2 linked regions of the Homo sapiens genome follow. The protein of the gene in region 1 interacts with the protein of each later gene in a biochemical or structural test. Each region holds a gene or a part of one and is shown in the gene's direction. Other genes may lie near its edges. The genes, in order: KIF3A and AP3B1.

Region 1 (7,357 bases):
TAGAGTGTCCAACACATAGGAGATACTCAATAAATAATTGTGGAAGAGTTATTGATATAGTATAAAGTCTTAATTTTTTTTTAGGTTAAAGAAAGACCTGATGTGGGAGTTTATATCAAAGATTTATCAGCTTATGTGGTAAATAATGCTGATGATATGGATAGAATTATGACGCTAGGCCACAAAAATCGTAAGTATAGTGTGTAATTGTGATTAAGCATCTGTGTGTTGAGTAGGCTGGTTTAGAAGCAAATTTGGTATGGCACTTTACCCTGTAGAGACTGGATTTTTTAGGTTTCTTGAAAACCATTCCACTTTGATTATTTACCATGTAGAGAGCATAGATGAATGAAAGATACCACAAATCATTTTCCATGCCGAGCAAAATTTTGTTTCTTTTTAGTAGCGCCAATCTATGCAACTCTCATACGGCTGTCTCTTGGTAGCTATAATAGTAAAATTGGTAATGTTTATTGAGCTCTTAGTGGAGAGTGCTTGTGCTAAGTGCTTCATAAAGATGCTCTCTTAGTCCTCACAGGAGACTATGAAGACATTAAATTCTTACTTTATGAATGAAGAAAGTGAGACTTAGTTTAAGTAACTTGTCTAAGTACTATAACTACTAAGTGGTAGAGTGAGTGATCACACCTAAGCCATAGCCACGCACAGTGGCTCATGCCTGTAATCCCAGCAACTCGGGAGGCTGAACTGGGAGGATCATTTGAGGCCAGGAGTTTGAGACCAGCCTGGACAATAGGGAGCCCCTGTCCTAAAGAAACCCACCTGGAAGAAACCCAAAAAACCTAGGCCAGTAGTCTGCATTAACTAGGCACTGTAATGCTTCCCTTTTGTTGACAAGAAAAGCAAAACAAAATTTAAATTAAAAAATTGTATTCTTTTTAGTAATTGTGTCACATTTTTAGTCTAAAGAGTAGGAAGCTTCAGCGATATTATACAGATGCCTCAAACCTAGTACTGGTGATGCAGCTAATAGCAATTAGAAATTAGAGGTGAAAAGTCTGGTCGCGGTGGCTCACACCTGTAATCCCAGCACTTTGGGAGGCTGAGGTGGGTGGATCACTTGTTTGAGACCAGCCTGGCCAACATGGTGAAACCCCGTCTCTACTAAAAATACAAAAATTAGCTGGGAGTGGTGGTGGGTGCCTGTAATCCCAGTTACTCGGGAGGCTGTGGCAGGAGAATCGTTTTAACCAGGAAGGCAGAAGTTGCAGTGAGCCGAGATCGCGCCACTGCACTCCAACTTGGGCAACACAGCAACCAAAAAAAAAAGAAAAAAAGAGGGATTAGAGGTAAAAGATGAGAAATAGGAAATGAAAAATTTTTATAAGTTTCTGTGACTTGACGATAGATATATCAAACCCAAGGAAATCAAACAACAAAACTTCAAAAATCAATTACATTCTTATGAACCAATTAATAGAAAAAGACCAAATCTTAATAGAAAAATTAGCAAAAAATATGTATGTTATTCGTAGAAGAACTAAGCACAGCAATAAGTATGTGAAAGGCTGTTTAACTTCACAACTAATCAGGAAAATGCTAAAACAAGATAGAGAGAGATGTTTCACCCATCAGATTAGATGAAGGATATGTAGGTTGGTGAGACTTTGAAGAAATGGGCACTGAGGATGGAATATAAATTGGTGCAGCCTATTTGAAGGGCATTGTTAACAGTATCTGTTGACATTTTAAAATACATTCCTTTTGACTCTGTGTTTCTAATTTTAGACATTCTGGAAAATATTTTTAGATGTAACAATCTAAATAACCTTCAATAAAACCCTGATTATGTAAATGATGACACAAAAATACCATAGACTGTAATAAAGCTGTTAAAAACAATGAGTTAGGCTGGGTGTGGTGGCTCATGCCTGTAATCCCAACACTCTGGGAGGCCAAGGTGGGCAGATTTCCTGAACTCAGGAGTTAGAGACCAGCCTGTGCAACATGGCGAAACCCCATCTCAACTAAAAATACAAAAAAATCAGCCAGACGTGGTGGCTTACGCCTATAATCCCAGCTACTTGGGATGCTGAGGCAGCAGAATTGCTTGAACCTGGGAGGCAGAGGTTGCAGTGAGCCAAGATAGCACCACTGAACTCCAGCCTGGGCAATAGAGGAAGACTCTGTCTCAAAAACAAAACAAAACAACAACAAAAAAAACAACAAGCTGAGTGTGGTGGCTCATGCATATAATCCCAGCACTCTGGGTGGCTGAGGCGGATGGATCACTTGAGGCCAGGAGTTTGAGACCAGCCTGGCCAACCTGGTGAAACCTCGTCTCTGCTAAAAATACAAAAATTAGCTGGGCGTGGTGGTGCGCACCTGTGATCTCAGCTACTCAGGAGGTTGAGGCCGGAGGATCACTTGAACCTGGGAGGTGGAGGTTGCAGTGAGCCGAGATTGTGCCACTGCCCTCCAGCCTGGGTGACAGAGGGAGACCCTGTCTCAAACAAAACAACAAAAAAACCCAGTCAGGTAAATGTGCCTACACAGAGCTGGAAGATTTTCAAAGTATGTTTGTCAGTGGGGGGATAAAAGCAAATTGTAGAACAGTATGTATGTACTGCCTTACCCCATTTATTTATATGTGAAAAATTGTTAAACCATATATTTATTTGGGCAGTGTGTGTGTGTTTGTGTCTACACGTATGTATATAAAATACAGAATGAAAGGACAGATTGTAGTGGTTACCTTTAGAGAAGGAGAAATAAAATTGGGGAAAAGGAATGTCAGGAGCTTTCACTTTATGCTTTCTGTATGCTTTTATTAAAAAAACAAATACCAGAAATATGTTAATTATTGGTTATTTAATTAAAAATTTTAACACAAGATTTCATTCATAGAATGAAATTAATTTAATTCTCAGGTAGTTAATTGGAGCTTTTGGTCACTTCATTAAAGATTACCCTTTTAATGTTTCAATTATAAAATCAAAGCTTGCACAGAAAAATGCTGCATGAATGTATAGTAGGAAGATAATTTTGGCATTGAGTAAAATTAACTTTAAAATACTTTGGAATTTAAGAAAAAAACTAATACAGGTCTATTGTAAAAAAATGTTTTTTGTTTACACAATATATTCATATATTTACACATATGCAAATACTTTGCATATTTTGAATGGATTTTTTTTTTTTACAGAAGTAGGATTATGTTATGTATTTCTTTCTAACTTGCTTTTATTTTTAATTTATATGTTATGGACATTTTTCCACGTTTTTAGATCTACCTTATTTTTTTTAATGCTGCACTGAATATTGTTGTATTGTCTAACATATGTGTGCAAGTATTCCTGTGGTTTATATGTTCAAGCTGGAGTGCAGTGGCGCAATCTCAGCTCACTGCAACCTCCACCTCTCGGATTCAAGTGATTCTTGTGCCTCAGCCTCCCAAGTAGCTAAAATTCTCTTTATTATTATTGTTTTTTACTTCCTGCAGTACACCAGCATGCATACTTCTCTTTAGATAGCTAAATCAGCAATAATTTTTCCAATTAATGTGGTTTTTTGGTGTAAATTAGTTATTTTTTAGGCAGTATTACTAGGGATTGAAATTATTTTTTGCTAAAGTTATGTCTTTAATATGAGAAACCTTACAAATTTGTTATCAACAAAGTATAAGAGAAATTTCATGTAGTGGCTAAGTACACACCCATGCCTTTATGGTTTAGCCATGCTCTCTGGCTTTTGATTGTGATAAAATTAAGTGTTTTAAACTGTTCAGGATGTTTAATTATTTTTAAAGGCACTCTCTGTTACACTTTTAAAGGATTTCGTTTATTTATTAAAGGTTCTGTTGGTGCAACTAATATGAACGAACATAGTTCCCGTTCCCATGCCATCTTTACAATTACTATAGAATGCAGTGAAAAAGGCATTGATGGTAACATGCATGTCAGGATGGGGAAGCTCCATCTTGTAGATCTTGCTGTAAGTAACAGGACACTGCTTAAGGAATAACTCTTTCTTGTGATCCATTTATTTTATAAATGAATGAAAATTAAAGTGAAAAGGTATGATTTACATATGATTTTTAAGGTGTTACTTGTGTATGTTTATTATTTATTATGGAACATTTCAAATGTATATGAAAGTAGATAGAATAGTATAGTGATCCCCCATACACTGATCACCCAACTCCCAACAATCAGCTCATGGCTAATCTTGTTTCATGTACTCTCCCCCACTTCTTCCTTTCCTATATTATTTTGAAGTGAATTCAGGCATCATATCAGGTTTTTTACTGTTACATTACTTTTTAATAAAACCTTGGGAAGAATATTCTATTTTTAAAAAAATTTTAGCTTTACTTTCATCTCTGTTTATTGCTAGGGTTCAGAAAGACAGGCAAAAACTGGAGCTACTGGACAGCGCCTAAAGGAAGCTACAAAAATCAATCTTTCACTTTCCACCCTTGGTAATGTAATTTCTGCCTTGGTTGATGGAAAAAGCACTCATGTGCCTTATCGTAACTCTAAACTGACTCGTCTTCTTCAGGATTCCTTAGGAGGAAATTCAAAAACCATGATGGTAAGACTTAATTGGTGATATAGTTAACATCAGGCAAATTTAAGATTGTAATTTATGCCAATAATTGATACGTATCACATTTTTTAAACTTGATTATTTTACTTTTTTTGACTTGTGGTTGTCCTTTTTGTGGTACACTCGTGTATTAGCCCATAATAGTGTCCTTTGGAAACTCATGTGGTTGACACTCTCATTTTCGAGAAGGCCAAGGGTGCATATGTGCTTTAAATGTTTTTGATGTATTTGTAATGGTAGTATTAATTTTAACTCTGTCAAGTGTAAAATGATTTGTTTCATATTTCTAATTCAATAGTGTGCAAATATTGGGCCAGCAGATTACAATTATGATGAAACTATCAGTACATTACGGTATGCCAATCGTGCTAAGAATATTAAAAATAAAGCTAGAATTAATGAAGATCCAAAGGATGCTTTGCTGCGTCAGTTCCAGAAAGAAATAGAAGAACTGAAAAAGAAGCTTGAAGAAGGTAGCTTTTCCTCAAAATATTAATCTTTATGTTGGCTAAAAATACATTGTTGAACCACTAACTGTTCTAACAAAAGCCCTCTATTAAACCTTTTTTGAGCCTCTAACATTGGTAGTTAAATGAATATTTCTAGAAAGTGACTTGGTACTTACATACTTTCGCATTTTCATATTAAGCTTAAGTAAAATTACATAATATTTGTGTATGTGGTTTTTTAAAAACATTTGCATGATGTTTTGTAGATTTCATATGACCACTTTTTAAGGAATGAATGTTTATTTGTCTCTGTATAAGAGCAAATTCTGCAATGTATGTATTTAGGTGAAAATGACCAGAATTCTGGCATTGCAATCAATATCAACTAACTATTGTTTGAAGTAAAGCAAGATATTAGACAGTCATGAGTAAACCAAGTTTGCTATAAGGAAAAATGCATTGCATGACCTTTAAAATATCCTTTCATACCTAAATTTGAACATGAGATTGTATTTTGGAAATTCTTTTCTAACAATATCATGCTAGAAAGTTGGAAAATTTGAAGATCTTATTTATGAGAGTGAGACGCTTCCCAGTCATTAAGTGCTGAGTGAGTCCTTGCACCTTAATGCGAGAAACAGATCCTTTCTGATTGGTACAGAGCTCCTTCGCGAACCACGTAAACAGGGCTTTGGTTTCAAAGCACCTTTGTAGTCTGTGAGAAGACTGACTAGATCAGAGGTGAAATTCAGAGACGCCAGCATCACAAATGTTTAGAGAGGGTACTTATTTAGTAAACAAGTAGTTATTGAGGAAAAGCAGTAAGAGAACTGTTAGATAATGAAATTTGGTGTTTTAAATGTGACCACTAGGTGGTATTTATAGCCAGTATGTTTTAAAGATTTTTAATTTCTTAGCGATGTTAACGGTGAGTGCATACTTTTATTTTGCTGACTTTATGTTTTACATTTTTTTGTTGTGGTAAAATATACATGACATAAAATTTATCATTGTAACCATTGTTAGTTAAGTGTACAGTTAGTGGCATCAAGTATATTCGCATTGTTGTGCAACTGTCACCACTATTCATTTCTAGAAATTTTTCATCATCCCAAACAGAAATGCTGTGCCCATTTAAGTAGTAACTTCCTATTCTTTTCTCCCCCAGTCTCTGGTAACCACTATTCTACTTTCGGTCTCTATGAATTTGACTATTCTAGGTACCTCATATAAGTAAAATCATGGAGTATCTACTTGTGACTGGCTTATTTCACTTAACAGAACGTTGAAGGTTCATCCATATTGTAGCAAGTGCCTGAATTTTATTCCTTTTTAAAAAATTGTGGTTAAACTTGCATAACATAAAGTTTACCATTTTAATCACATTTAAGTCTACATTTCTGTGGCATTACATTCACATTGTTCTGCAGTTATCCGTCTTCAGTTTTCTTCTTGCAAAATTGAAACTTTGTACTCATTAAAAACAGTATGTACCCATTCCTCCCTTCCCCTAGTTCCTGGCCAACAACCATTCTGCTTTGTCTATGAATTTGACTGCTCTGGGTATCTTACGAAAGCGGAATTGGTGGGGCGCAGTGGCTCACGCTTGTAATCCCAGCACTTTGTGAGGCCGAGGCGGGTGGATCAGTTGAGGTCAGGAGTTCGAGACCAGCCTGGCCAACACGGTGAAACCCCATCTTTACTGAAAATACAAAAATTAGCTGGGCATGGTGGCTCTCGCCTGTAATCCCAGCTACTTGGGAGGCTGAGGCAGGAGGATCACTTGAACCTGGAAGGTGGAGGTGGCAATGAGCCGAGATTATGCCACTGCACTCCAGCCTGGGTGGCAGAGTGAGACTCCCATCTCAAAAAAAAAAAAAAAAAAAAAAAAGAAAGTGAAATACAGCATTTGTCTTTTTGTGACTGGCTTATTTCATTTAGTATAATGCCTTCAAGGGTCATCCGTGTTGTAGAATGTATCAGGACTTCTTTTTAATTCTGAATAACATTCCATTGTGTATATACTACATTTTGTTATCCATTCATCCACCAATGGACAGTTGGTTCTTTCCACCTTTTGGCTATTGTGAATAATGCTGCTATGAACGTGGGTATACTAATACCTGTTTGAATTCTTGTTTTACCATTTTTGGGGTATGTACCCAGCAATGGAATTGCTGGATTCTATGATAATACTGTTGTTAATACATTTCAGTTCATTTTTGCTCTTATGACATTTCTTTTTATAATCTAGTTAATGGAGTTGATCATATCAACAATAAAAAAGTAGGCAATAGCATTAAAATAATAATTTTTAAACTTAAAAATTATTGTAGGCT
Region 2 (7,357 bases), about 54 Mb from region 1:
CTCAAGTACAGTTTCCAGTCCAAGATAATATATTTAATTTAGTTGCCATGTCTCTTTAATCTTCTTTAATCTGGGATAGTTCCTTAGCCTTTTTTGTCTTTCATGAATTTGACATATCTAAGGATTGCAAAGCCTATTATTTTATTTTATGTTAATCAGTTTTTGGGTTTGCTGGTGTTTCCTCATGTTTAGATTCAGGTTATGTATCCTTGGCTGGGATACTACCATAGGTGATGCATGCTTCTTGAACTATTACATTTGGAGGCATAGGTTGTCCATCTTCATGATGTTAATTTTCCTAGTCACAGGGTTGTCCAGTTTCTCTGTGGTGTCATTTCTGTTTTTTTTTTTTTTTTTTTCAAATTATCTGTGGGGAGACACTGAGACCATGCAGATGTCTTGCTCTTTTTTAAATGGACCACTTCTACATTTAACAACCATTGATCAATCTCCTGAACCTGTCTTTTCCACAATGGCTGCAAAATGGTAATGTTTCAGCTGCAACTCCCTCTGCTGTTCTGCTCTTTGGCTTCTTGGCCTAGAGCTCTGTGTTCACTGATCCTTCACTAACCATCTCAATGATGCCTAGGTACTTCCTAGTCATAGTATTATCGGCAATTTTTGTTTTCTGAATTTAATCTTATTTATCAATATTATTTATCTTCTCCTCTCTTCAAACAGAAGCAGAATTAGATGGCTTTATGAAAGTAGATCCTATACCTAATTTATTGGCTAAAAAGGCCTGTGTATTAGATTATTGGCTTCAAGATTTTCAATTTCTTTATTTAAAATGTAAAGAACTTATTTTTGTACTCTTATTTTTTATTTTTTGAGACATGTCTTACTCTGTTGCCTAGGCTGGAGTGCAGTGGTGTGATCATGGCTCACTGCAGCCTCAACCATCTGGGCTCAAGTGATCCTTCCCACCTCAGGCTTCCGAGTAGCTGGGACTACAGGTGCATGCTACCATGCCCAGCTAATTTTTGTATTTATTGTAGAGATGGGGTCTTGCCATGTTGCCCAGGCTAGTCTTGAACTCCTAGGCTCAAGCAATCCGCCTGCCTCATCCTCCCAAGGTGCTGGAATTGGAGGCGTGTACCACTGTGCTTGGCCCCTTCCTTCTTTTTAAAATATTCTCAACTTTTATTTTCTGTTTTTTTCTAAGTTGTTTTTCTTCATTTAAAAAAAAACTTCTTTTAACCAATTTGGGTATGTGTGCCTATAATTAAAAATAATTTTAATAATTCTGTTACTGGATTAAACATTTAATTAGGAATTAATTTCTAGAAACAGACAAGACTAATTAATTTTTCTTAATTACAATAGTAAAGCTACTAAATTTGTAAATCTCTTTTCCTTTGAGAGCATCTTGGTGTATTAGAAGGAAGACTGAGGCTGGGAATGGTGGCCCCTGCCTGTAATCTTAGCATTTTGGGAGGCCCAGGCAGGAGGATTGCTTGAACCCAGGAGTTCCAGACCAGCCTGGGCAACATAGTGAGACCTTGTCTCTATAAATGAAAATGGGAAGAAAAAACAAAAAACACTGGGCCCAGAGTTAGAAGACCTGGATTTAAGTTGATGTTTTCCATTTGTAGTAGTGCTTCCTTGTTCAAGTTGCTGATCTCTTCAAACCTCAGTTTCCTCATTTCTAGACGGGATGTGATAATACTTGCCTCTTTTGTGAGGATCTCATGAGATGGTGTACTTCAAAGTGATTTCTAAACTAGGATATTAACTAACGCTATTTGGGAAAGTTGGTGAAGACTTCACTGAGGTAGTGACACTTTAGATCTTAAAGCCTGAGGTTTTTGCCAGGGGGAGGAAAGATGGATTCTTTAGGCAGAGTATGTAGAAACCAGAAGATTTGCAAAAGAAAAAGCATGTTCAAATGAGATGGATATTTAGACATCACAATTATGAATAGTAGGTAGTAAAGTATGGGAATGGATGAAATCACCCAGGGAAGACTTTTCTTGTTAGACGAGAAGGCAGTTTGGACAAAACCCAGGGGACAACAGGATATAAAGTATGAATGGAAGAACTAGAAAAAGAGACTGAGCTCAGAAGGGTGGGAAAACACAGGAAGGTTTAAAAAAGAAGATGCTAACAGGAAAATTAAAAGAAGGAAATGTTCAGCTATGTCAGGAGTTGTAGAGTAAGGGCAAATAGAATGAAGGCTGAAAAGAGGCCCTTGGGTTTAACAACTGAAAGGTGACTTTAGCAGCCAGTAACTTAGCAATGCAGTACCTCCTGCACACGTTGAAAGGTAGCATTTTTACTCTGTTTAAATCGGGGTGGGCTTTTCATTTGTTTAGATTCAAAGAGCTAATTTAGATCCAAGCAAAGTACTGCATGCTTTCCTGTAGTCAGTAATACAACCCAGTGTATTTGGATTGCATCAATAAAGCCTGACTTATTTTTTAACTTAAATCTTATTCATTGTCAACTTTACAATATCAAACATGAAAATTCTATTACATTCATTCTTAACCTTTAATATCAGTGATTCTCAGGAGAGTCCAGTAGGAAGATTACATGTGTCTGTGGTTTGTACGCAATTATAGCAACTCTGACTTTATCTCCACTACTTTTTGTATCTTTCTGAAAGGCATATAGAAATGCAGCTGAGTGAGATTCATTTACTTAGAGGGATGTTATTGAATATACTTTCTTAAAAATACAATTTTATTAATAGTAACGCATTATATTTGACCTACCTCAAAGAGTCATTGTGTCTCACTATGGGTTCTAAACTTGTTTGTGTTTAAGTCCATTTTTTATTAATACTTAATTTTATCTAGTGTCTGTACCATATTTTTGGGTGTTTTTTTTTTTCATTTAACATTTTTTCATGGTCTAGTTGTTTAGAGCTTGCTCTACTTTCTTTTTGCTTATCCTAGTATTTCTCATTTAAACTTTATCTCATTGTGTATTTTCAGTTTATGTAGTTGCTCAGTGAATATTTCTTAAATATTTATATAGATAAATCGTTCACACATTCTGCTCATATTAAAGACTGTGATTTGTGTGAAGGTGCCTAGCAAAGTGTTTGGCTCATAATTTTGCTTAATAAAATATTTTCAGATCCTTTTACTCAATTCAGTGATTTAGATTCCATTAACATTTGCTCTCTCATTAGCCAATGTTGTTAAAAAATGAAGCATGACTGATTCCGTGGACCCTATACAGAAGGAAACCCTCATCTGGTATCTCCATTGTATTGTAGTACAGCATCACCCTGAAGCTAATTTTGTGTAGTTCACTTGGGTCTTTGCTGTGGTTAGGATTAACTGACTCGGAATTGTCATGTAGGTATGGAATGAACTTTACAATCAGGATTTTTAGTCTTTATCCCAGTCTTCAAAGGCATCTTTACCTCCCAGTCTTGGATTATTCCATATGTATGGTTCATTCCTCTGTGTTTTCACCATAAAAATGCATAACAATTATAGTGTCTTTATCTTGTTTTTAAGAAACTCAGACTTTATTTGGAGAGATTAGGCTAATGTGAACTAACCGTCAGTAATTCAAGTATACAATTAGTGTTAAATTGTGTAATTCAACTTTTCAGTGTGGCATACCTATTGAAAATTATTTGTTATAAGCCTTTGTTTGTGTAAACAGTGATTTACTGAAGAAAATGGAAATGCTGGAATTTTGAAATGTTAAGGACATTTTAGTTTGAGACGTTGAAGTGTTGGTGCCCTGAGTCATAAGCATGACATGAAGAGGCACGGGCTCCTTCCTCATTGTGAATTCCTTTCTCTTGTGCTCAGGAGTTCAGGGTTGCTGCTATGAAAATATGCTTCAGTCATGATTTTGTCAGCATACTGTTATACATCTGATCATCTTTAGTTATGAAGATTTAAATCTCTTGTGTTCTAATAATTCCAGGTTTGATAACTGATCTGTCTTGTTTATTATGTTTAGCTAATTGAAATTTATGGTCATTAGATCTGGTACTAGAGCTGTTAACATATTTGCTTGCTACATATGTAAACTGGATCCTACTTTTTTTTTTTTTTTTTTACAAGGGGTACATTAAGTTATTAGGAAATTTTAGTATTTTATTGATTTTTCACTAAATTTCAGCATTTGTTCCAAGGTGACTAAAAATAAAAGAAGAAACTGTATACTAGCATCTGCAGTGCATTCCTAGCAGCTGAACTAGTTGTTTTTGTCTTCATAAAAATAAGATCGTAAGTTTTACAAAGGGCCAACTATTCAAATTAAGGATTGTCATTTCAGTGGTGCAGTAGGGTTCCATTTATGATTTAATTCTTGAAATATATTTCAAATTAAATAAGATTTTACTACATTGAATAGAAATTTGATGAAATACTGCCTGTAAACAGAGTCTTACTTTCCAACAGATTATAAAACCTTTTATCTTATTTTGCTTTGCTTGCATATCTCCTTGAAGGAGAGTTGGTTCTGACTTCTACATTTTGTCTTAATAAATATTCAAGAAAATATTCTTTCTTGACAGTAGGATATGTTATTTTTAAAATCACTGATCTGGTAAAATTTGAGGAGAAAAATCTGAAAATTAAATTTCAAGCCTTACCATTAAATCATAAGATGTGAGATTTTATGTTATTTAAAAAAAATTTAGTATTTGGAGCAACATTACCAGAGCTGAATGATTAAAGCACATGAAAAAGGCAGACAGATGGTTGGTTGAAATGTTCTTTTTTGCTGCATGAAAAGTTATAAATGCTCATAGAATGACAAATGTATTACAGTGAAATAATTTGACAGTATTTCACTTGTGTATATAAATGAACTACTGACAAAAACAAATTGCCTGCAGTCCAAATTCAAAATTTAAAATGAAGAGCTTAAAGTAGAATAATCAAGAAGGAAATGATTTTCCTCTATTTCATATTATTATGAATAACGTTGGTTCGTGTATTTAGAGAAGGCTTATTTAGCCTATCAGCTGGAAAGACTTAATAGATCTACAAAAGTGAACAGTTTATAGCCAATATCTGTTTATTGATGGACTGATTATTTATATTGCTGATAGGAACCAGCCTAATTAGAAGTCCACTGTCTTTAATTCAGCTGAGTGAGTTGGCATGGTAGCTGGACAAATGAGAGAAGAATGAATAAGGCCCTGTCTCAGTTTGTTTTATGCTGCTATAACAAAAAACCTGAGACTGGGTAATTTCTAAAGAATATAATTTTATTTCTCACATTTTTGGAGGCCAGGAAGTCCAAGATTGAGTCACAGGCAGGTTTAGTTTCCTGGTGAGGGCTGCTCTTTGCTTCTAAGATGGTCTGTTGTTGCCGCATCCTCTGGAGGGGAGTAATGCTGTGTCCTTACTGGGCAGAAGGTGGAAGGGCAAGAGAATGGAAGACTGTGAAGCCTCTTTTGCAAGGGCCTTAATCTCATTCATGAAGGGAGGAGCCCTCATGACTAAATCTTAAAGGCCCCACCTCTTAATGCTATCATATTGGCCATTAAGTTTGAACATCTGAATTTTGGAGAGGACACATTGAAACCATAGTAGGGTGGTTCCAAAATCATAGGTTGGCAGAGCTAGGCATCACCCAACTTTATTCTTGGAATGGGTTTTCTGCAAGTTTTTAAAGCCTAGGTTGAGAATGTGGTCAAGAAGGATGTGGGGGAAATTAATTAGTAAAATATGAGGGCAGAGAGATAAGGGGCAGAGTGGAAGGCGGAGACCTGATTGTGTAGGGCCTTGTAAAATCATTGTTAAGGTCTTTGATTTTACTCTGAGTGAGAAGGGATGCCATTTGGAGAGTTTTGAGCAGAGGGGTGAAATGATTGTTTACCCTTTAAAGGGACATTTTGCCTCTTGAACTAGGAGTGGACTGCAGATTTGAGGCAAGGACCAGCAAGGAGACTATTACAGTAATTCAGGCAAGAGAAGGTGATCCGATTGGTGGTAGTGGAGAGAAGTGGGTGAGTTATGGATATATTTGAAAGGTAGAGCCAATGAGATTTGCTGATAGTTTGGATGTGATATGTGTGTGGGAGAAAAGATATCAAGGGTGGATACAAAGTTTTTTGCCTACACAGCTCGAAGTTTGGAATAGCTGTCAACTAAAATGAAGAATATTGTGCAAAGAGGAATTTTTTTTTAAAGGGGGAAAGGGACCAAGAGCTTGTGCATGTTAAGTTTGAGATGCGATTAGGCATCCATGTGGAGATACTAAATAGGCAGTTGGATATCAGAGTGTGGAGCTTAGAGGAGGAGTCAGGCTAGAAGTATAAATTTGGGAGTCATCAGGTATCATGGGATTGGATGAGACACTGAGGAAGTGAGTGTAGAAAAAGGTCAGAGTCAGTCAGTCCTGGGACATTCCTGGAGTAATTGTGTCAAATAATACAAATAGGTCAAGTAAGATGATTACTGAGAAGGGAGTTTTGGATTTGTCACTGGGTGGACTTTGGTGACCGTGACAAGCAGTTTAGGTGCACTGGTGGGGCTGAAAGCCTCATGAGTGGGCTCAAGAGAGAAGGAAGAAGAAGAATTGTGGTTAGTATTTTTTTTTTTTTTTGAGACAGAGTCTTGCTCTGTCGCCCAGGCTGGAGTGCAGTGGCGTGATCTCGACTCACTGCAAGCTCCGCCTCCCGGGTTCACGCCATTCTCCTGCCTCAGCCTCCCGAGTAGCTGGGACTACAGGCGCCCTCCACCACGCCCAGCTAATTTTTTTTGTATTTTTAGTAGAGACGGGGTTTCACCGTGTTAGCCGGGATGGTCTCCATCTCCTGACCTCATGATCTGCCCACCTCGGCCTCCCAAAATGCTGGGATTTACAGGCGTGGGCCACCGCGCCTGGCCATTAGTATATTTTTAAGTATAGAAGAGCAGAGAAATGGAGCAGCACTTGGAGAGGAATGTTATGTCAAGGAATTTTTCCTTAAGGTAGGAGAAACTGTATTATCTTGTTTGCTGATGGAACCAACTGATGTAGAGGAGAGAAAATAGATGATGCATTAGAGAGAAGGAAAATTGCTGGAGAATTGCTGATATCCCCTTTTTCTTCTAGAAAACTTACAGATACAGGTTAGCTGAAAAATAACAACCCTAATTTCAATATCCAGAAGAAATCGGTTAATGTAGTATATATCTTTTAGCCTTTTTTCTTTTGCATATATATTTATATGTATGTATGTGTATATCATGTGTTTTTAGAGCAAAGCTATATGCTTTTATAATATGACATTATAATTTGCTTGTTTCATTTACCAATGCATGGAGCCTGCTCATTTCTTAAAATGATAGTCCTTTTAGGACAAATTGTAGTTAAATTACTATCTATTAGCTATTAGGAAAGTAAACAACTAAGGTATACAAATGAGGTTATGTAGCTAGCTCCACTA

The links.
Region 2: the proteins of KIF3A (region 1) and AP3B1 form a complex in vitro, tested with the Homo sapiens proteins (one study listed by IntAct).

Annotation. Positions count from the first base shown.
Region 1 is NC_000005.10:132,713,442-132,720,798, reverse strand, and holds part of KIF3A (kinesin-like protein KIF3A), read left to right. Parts: intron 1-84; coding exon 85-190; intron 191-3,814; coding exon 3,815-3,954; intron 3,955-4,356; coding exon 4,357-4,554; intron 4,555-4,867; coding exon 4,868-5,042; intron 5,043-7,357. UniProt on the Homo sapiens protein: Microtubule-based anterograde translocator for membranous organelles. Plus end-directed microtubule sliding activity in vitro. Plays a role in primary cilia formation. Plays a role in centriole cohesion and subdistal appendage organization and function.
Region 2 is NC_000005.10:78,284,423-78,291,779, reverse strand, and holds part of AP3B1 (AP-3 complex subunit beta-1), read left to right. Parts: intron 1-7,357. UniProt on the Homo sapiens protein: Subunit of non-clathrin- and clathrin-associated adaptor protein complex 3 (AP-3) that plays a role in protein sorting in the late-Golgi/trans-Golgi network (TGN) and/or endosomes.